2 linked regions of the Homo sapiens genome follow. The protein of the gene in region 2 interacts with the protein of the main gene of each other region in a biochemical or structural test. Each region holds a gene or a part of one and is shown on either strand. Other genes may lie near its edges. The genes, in order: CREB1 and RGS13.

What was found.
Region 1: the proteins of RGS13 (region 2) and CREB1 form a complex in vitro, tested with the Homo sapiens proteins (one study listed by BioGRID).

Annotation. Positions count from the first base shown.
Region 1 is NC_000002.12:207,536,210-207,540,037, reverse strand, and holds part of CREB1 (cyclic AMP-responsive element-binding protein 1), read right to left. Parts: intron 1-3,828.
Region 2 is NC_000001.11:192,646,069-192,649,896, reverse strand, and holds part of RGS13 (regulator of G-protein signaling 13), read right to left. Parts: intron 1,972-3,828; coding exon 1,910-1,971; intron 1-1,909. UniProt on the Homo sapiens protein: Inhibits signal transduction by increasing the GTPase activity of G protein alpha subunits thereby driving them into their inactive GDP-bound form. Binds to both G(i)-alpha and G(q)-alpha.

The sequences.
Region 1 (3,828 bases), on a different chromosome or scaffold from region 2:
TTGGGAGTCAGGAAATCTACATTTCAGCCCAATTTATCATTGTATTCCTGTTTATATCTTACCTTCTCTTACATGAAACTCAAAGCTCCCTGCCTCATACTCAGCATTCCTCAAAATGTAGATCTATAATCTAATACTTTCTTCACCAATTTATGAGTATGTCAAGTTCATTATATGTCCATGTTTTCATTTTTTTGTCCATTCCACTGCCTAGAATACACTCCATTTTATCTGTACTTACTGAAGTTCTTTAGTATTCAACTTGAATTCTACTTCTCCCACAAAACTTTTCCTCACTAAGCCCCTTCTCTTCTGAACTCTGTAGCTCTTCAAGACAGTAAAAACTCTGTCATGTACTCTGGCACATATAAATCATTCTTACACTATTTCATCATCCCTACTATACCGTAAGATTCTTGAGGGTAGGAGCCATATAGTCAGGCTTTATTGCTTATATCAACTAGAACAATCTTCATTTAATACCTAGGTATTTTTATAAATACCTAACTGAATAAATTTTCTTGCGATTATTTCACCAACCATAATAAAGTCAATGGTCAATAAATCTTCACTGAATAAATGATTGATAAATGGCAATACATAAAGTCAAGGTGTCACCATTGATCACAGCAAACAATAGAGCTACTACTGATACTTATTATAAGAAAATGACTCCCCTTTAAGAGTACAAATAGGGCTGGGGGCGGTGGTTCATGCCTGTAATCGGAGGCTGAGGCAGGCAGATCACATAAGGTCAGGAGTTCGAGACCAGCTTGGCCAACATGGTGAAATCCTGTCTCTACTAAAAATACAAAAAAAAAAAAAAAAAATTAGCCAGGTATGGTGGCACATGCTTGTAATCCCAGCTACTTGGGAGGCTGGGGCAGCAGAATCGCTGGAACCCAGGAGGCGGAGGTTGCAGTGAGCCGAGATCACACCACTGCATTCCAGGCTGGGAGACAGAGCGAGATTCCTCTCAAAAAAAAAAAAAAAGAGTACAAATAATTCAGAATAATCTGTAATTTTCACTTCAGTGGTGAAAAACAAGGTATTTCTGTGTCCCCTACTGCCAACTACTTACTTATACCAACAGGGATAACAGCCCTCAAAAATAATGGTTATTTAACCTTGGGTAAATTACAAACATTTTTAGTTACATCTGTACTGTCATACAGTTACAACCAAAAACTCACAAGTAGATAACCAGATCCTTAGAAATTCACTTAAAATTGATGAAAGAAACGTCTTCATTTCAGAGAAGATGCACTAACCTTTGGGAAAAGACACATTCTATCATCATTGGTATAAGTCAACTTTCAGATCCACTCTACTCCTAAACTATTTTATTAATAACTTCCCTTTTAACCCTTTCTTATCTAATCAAATGTCACTTCTCTTCTTTCAGAAAAAACTCACCATCAATTCCTTAGACCTCATCCTCTCAAAACCTCGCCCCTTTTAAGATTATTTTTTAGAGATCCTAGAATCATCCAAGAGGAAGAAAACTGAAAGGGTGTTTTTCATCTTTGTTCACACAGCTAGTCTCACGGTAAACTCCTTTATCACCTTATTTCAACTCTAAGAAAAGGCAACTTAGCATCTGTAAGTTCATCAAGGAGTACTACTGTTTATTTTCTTTTTTAGGAGTTGAGATTATGTACCTAGCTTCAAGAATTTTTTAATACACAGTGATTTTTCATCACTGGAGATGTATAATGCACGTATTAAATTATAGGTAATTATTCATCACTGGAGAAACTGCCTTCTCATCTGTTGGAATAAACGCCAGAATACGTTTTTCTAAGCTAACATCTTTCTGGTAGCCTAGAAGACAAATGAGGAAACATCTGGGCAAAATATAATACAGGGTAAGCATCCCTAATAAAACATCCAAAATCTCAAACTTTTTGAGCACTGACATGATGCCATGAAAAATTCCCACACCTGACCTCATGTAACAGTTCACAGTCAAAACTGTTTCATGCACAAAATTATTAAAAATTTTGTATAAAATTACCTTCAGGCTATGTGTATAATGTGTATATGAAACAAATTTCATGTTTAGACTTGGGTCCCATCCCCAAGATAGCTCATTATGTATGTATATGCAAATATTCTAAAATCTGAAAAAACCCAAAACTGGAAATACTTCTGGTCCCAAGAATTTCAGATAAAAGATTCTCAACCTGTAAAACCTATCTTCATAGGGCCTTGTCTGGCAGAGCTTAAAAAGAGAGAGAGAAAAGGCAAAACAAAAAACAACAACAAAAAAACCCAGTAGATAAGACAAGAGTGTGTATATATTAAGGGGAGTCAGACATTCTGAATGTGAATAAAAACTAACGTCTATTCTTATTTAAGTTTTGTCTCAAAAACCTACATTTACAGATGTGATAAAACCACACCTTCTACTTACAACTTCAACAAGCTGACCAGCATCTGGCTCTTCTATAATGACTAAACTAGCATATATTTAATTGGCAGAGAAAAAACAACCACGTTCACATTATCAGTTTGCTGCTTTAATGATCTTTGCCTCCACCCCAAGAGGCAATCCACTGATGATTCCATGACACTGTGGGAAATCATTTAACTCTGTTAGTCTACAGATATGTTCCAGATAAAAAACGTTCTGCCTTTACAGATTTCAATGATCTACCCCACCCCCATCCCCAAATATGTAAAGACAAGCACTTTGTAGGCCAGGCGCAGTGGCTCACGCCTGTAATCCCACCACTTTGGGAGGCAGAGGTGGGTGGATCACGAGGTCAAGGAGATCGAGACCATCCTGGCCAACATGGTGAAACCCTGTCTCTTTAGCTGGGCATGGTGGCAGGCGCCTGTAATCCCAGCTACTTGGGAGGCTGAGGCAGGGGAATCGCTTTAACCCAGGAGGCGGAGGTTGCAGTGAGCTGAGATCGCACCACTGCACTCCAGCCTGGCAACAGAGAAAGACTCCGTCTCAACAACAACAACAACAACAAAGCACTTTGTAAACATTTTAATCATTTAGCAGGTACAAATAGCACACAGTAATATTTTATTTATGAGATGGCATCTTGCTCTGTCACCCAGAGTGGAGTTCAGTGGGGTGATACTGGCTCACTGCAACCTCCACTTCCAGGGCTCAAGCAATTCTCCTGCCTCAGCCTCCCAAGCAGCTGGGACTACAGGCGTATACAACTATACCCAGATAATTCTTCTATTTTTAGTAGAGATGGGGTTTCACCATCTTGGCCAGGCTGGTCTCAAACTCCTGGCCTCAAGTGATCCGCCCGCCTCGACCTCCCAAAGTGCCGGGATTACAGACGTGAGCCACCACGCCTGGCCAAATAGCACATAGTAATATTTTAAATCAAATATTAGTAAAACCTCAAAACAATATTCTTACATTAAAAACTTTGTATATATGATCAACGCATAAACACCAACTTGGGAATACAAAAAACGAAATATACCATGACAGCTTTTGTTTTTTTCTTAAGACAGAGTTTCGCTCTTGTCGCCCAGCCTGGCGTGCAATGGTGCAATCTCAGCTCACTGCAACCTCTGCCTTCCAGGTCCAAGTGATTATCCTGCCTCAGCCTCCTGAGTAGCTGGGATTGCAGGCGCCTGCCCCCATGCCCAGCTAATTTTTGTATTTTTAGTAGAGACGGGGTTTCACCATGTTGGCCAGGCTGGTCTCGAACTCCTGACCTCAGGTGATCCACCTACCTCAGCCTCCCAAAGTGCTGGGATCACACAGGCGTCAGCCACCGCGACTGGCCCATGACAGCTTTACTTAATGATGTTTTCTGGAAAGAGATTTGTGCCCTTGCTGCTATATTA
Region 2 (3,828 bases):
AATACACAAACTGGCTACAATTAAAAGCAGAATAAATGTTAATACTAACAAAATAGAAGATAAAGGAGAAATTACTAAGCAGTTTTCTGGAGAAAGTGGCACTTGAATTTGACTTTCAAACATGAGCAGAGTAACTAGAGATGAAAAGGACTTTGAACAAAAGCCTGGAGGAGAAGAATCATAGATGTACAAGTAGAAAATGAAGTGACCCACATTGGTGGAGGGCATGTTATGTGACAGGTCATAGCTAGAGACAAATTTTAGAAAATGTTTTGGGTTAGGGTGTAGAGAGTACTAAATACCAAGATTTTGGACTTGTTGGTAGGCAGCAGAGAAAAAAGAATGATATTCAAAGACATGTACTTTATTACTATTAAAAGAAACTACCAATTATTGTGTGCTTAATCTATATTAGGCATTGAGCTAGATGTTTTGTATCTCACCTGCACAATAAACCTGAAAGGATAAGTGATACTATTCCCATTTTGTAGATGAAGAGTATGAAACTCCAAGAAAGAGATCAATCTAGCAAGGTGGCAAAATGTGTATTACAGAGGATTGGGACAAAAATTTACAATATAGTTAACTGAATATGCACTTTTGTCTCTTCATCACATTTCAATGTTCTAACACTGACCCAGAAGATATATTTGTTTAAAATTCACATTCATGCTGGCAAATTGGATTATAAACTATGAGGAATACCTGAAAAGTGAAAGCCAGTGGCGATTGCATCAAAGAAAGAAACTATGGCCCCAAATGCCCATTGGAAAGGCATGCTACAAAATATGAGAGCTCAGGTGGTGACCCAAGCCTGTAGAGGTAGATCCAGCCCTAGGGATGAAGCAGAAGTAAGCGCCAGAATGGTTGATTAACGTGTTTCAGCAGGAGTAGCCAAGTGTCTACACCTACTGCCATTACCCTCTGGGCTGGGCAGTGACAACTGAGTCCATACTAAAGAGGGTCTTGAGTCAGAAAGAGCAGGTAGTGCCTCAGGACTATGACAACCCCCATGAGGAACAGGGGGTACCTTGCCCAGAATAGCCACTGGTACACCCCACTAGTTAAAGCATGTAAGTAGCACAGCCAACTCTCCTTCATAGTCCATAGCTCTAAACAGATAAAACATTCACAGAGAGGCTAAAATGGGATCTTAAATAAAAAGATGGTTCTATAGGCAAAAATTAACAAGCATTGAGGGGAACCAACTCCATTTAAAAAAAACTACCAAATTCAACAAGAGAATTTTCTGTGTCTACACCCTACATTTTTTTTCTGTACCTGTCTTCTGGTTTTATCATTTTCTACAACGGACCAGCTTTTCTGACCCCAAACGCAATTGACTATTCTTTTGAATGCACGTCCTCCTTTATTTTTCCTGCACTGAGCCCATGACTTTGTCTCTGTCACATCCATTGCTGGTATCTCTTATTTGTACCATGTTAATGTCGATACTTACCTACAACTATATTCAGACCCATGTATAGTCCCACTTAAATCAGACACTGAAAAAGTTGAAACAAACTTTGGGGAGGAGTTTTAGAACAGCAAGACTCAAATTTATTCTTACTTTTGAAGGCAGCAAGAACAGCGAGTTAAGTGTTTTTGTTTAATACTAACTTTAGAAGGCTATGGTATGCGTTACTACTTAAGCATATTTTCCAAGGGATTTTGTGCATATACTTGTGAAGAATATTCACAGTGACTAATCTTGTTTTAATTAACACCAGAGAAAATAATAGTGGTTGACATAACAAACTATTTTCAGGTTTTCTTTTTTTAACTGTGTCAGTTGCCAGTTAGAAGGCTGTGAGAAGAATAGCATACATTCATCATCTGGCACCCCCACCTTTACCTCTAAGAATGGAACTCGCTAGTTATTCAAAGATGACAGATACGCAATACTCACATTTTGTAGCCATTAAATTTTCAAAAGACTGGGCCCACTGTAATACTTCCTCCAAAGTAAGGCTTTGAAAAGAAACAAAAAGCACTGATTGGGCTAAATATTCTCAAGGTTTTTGTTGAACTAAGTAAAATTATATTATCTTGAAAATGACACCAAAATATATTTACATTCCATTTGTGTGTGGCTTTGGTTGGAAAGTTATTTTCCTGTGATATTTTACATTTTATTTTTACTATTTAAATTTTTTAAATTATAAAAATTGTGCAAATAGTGTAGACTTGAAAATATAATTTAATAAATATTATTCAGAACCATAGTCCTATAATCTCCCTATTAATAAATTACCACTATTAGTATTTTGATGTAGTTTTTTAAAGTCTTTTTGTTATGTTTGTATTTGTGTGTTTTTAATCAAGAAGTAATCACACTATGTGTGTTTATACTTTATGCATTTTATGTCATCATAATTGTATTAATCATTTGTAGTGTTATAATTTATAATTACAAATGTATAATCATTGATAGTCATATTGTTTATGGTGATGGTGAAATATGCTACAAGGGGGGCATTCCATAGTTTACATAATTATTGTCAAACAGCATATTGATTTTCTCTCATTTTTCACCATAAAAACTCAAATGTAGCCCAGCTGTGTTTAAGGCTTGCCATGGCCACATGATTAGAGTAATTCCAGGGCACTAGCAGTAGAATCAAAGTTGGTTAAAAGAGGCAGATTTTTAAGGTTTTTGGTACAGACTGCCAAATTGCTTTTAAAAGGGTTATGCACTGTTTGCCGCTGCCACCAGCCAAGTGTTTACCTATTTATCTATTAGAATCTTAGAGTTAATCCACAAAACCTATTTGCATGCACTCATGTAATACAGTTAGTAACCCTAAAGCTAGTATTTTCTCAGTCTCCTACTTGCTAGAATTTTTTTGTATCAGTTTTAATTTTTATTAAGGTGTATTATGTCAAGTTACATTTTACCTAAACGGTATAAACAAAGCCATTTACCATTTAGAAAATAGTTGTGAAAGATTCCAGAACTCTGTTCATTTTGGTGAGCTTCATGAGGTGAATTGGCAAATGACTGTATTCTCAAATACAAGTAACTTTATACACCATGGAATACTATGCAGCCATAAAAAGAAACAATATCATGTCCTTTGCAGGGACATGAATGGAGCTGGAAGCCCATATCCTCAGCAAACTAATGCAGGAACAGAAAATCAAATACTGCCTGTTCTCACTTATAAGTGGGAACTGAATGATGAGAACATATGGACACATTGGGGAGAACAACACACACTGGGGCCTGTTGTAGGGTGGGGGCGTGGGAGGAGGGAGAGCATCAGGAATAATAGCTATTGGATGCTGGGCTTACTACCTAGGTGATAGGATGATCTGTGCAGCAAACCATCATGGCAGACATTTACCTATGTAACAAACCTGCACATCCTGCGCATGTACCCATGAACTTAGAATAAAGGTTGGAAATAAAACAGAAATAGGCAATGTGTTTATTGCCATTCAGTTTATGGTGCATTCTTAATTGTTCTGCTTTCAACAACTAGATAATTGAAGATGGCTATAGACACGCAAGCACTGTCCATTGGCTATACCTAAAATTAGCAGCCTAAAAATTAGTGCTGCAGGAACAGCCATCAGCATTAGCAGGTTCTTAACACAATGAAGGAGGATTAGTTAAAGAGATTAAAAAATATCCGAGAACATGGAAAAATATTGGGAGTCCTTAAAAGGTCAGATATCTTTTGTTTTCTAAAAATTCAGACGGATCCTGCCAGTTTTGGATGGACTGCTTGCATCAGTACTGAGGCTTAACAGTGTACTGTGTTAAGATTGCTTTCAAAAAACATTTCCATGAAATAGTATCTGAGTCATTGTTCTTTTCTCTTG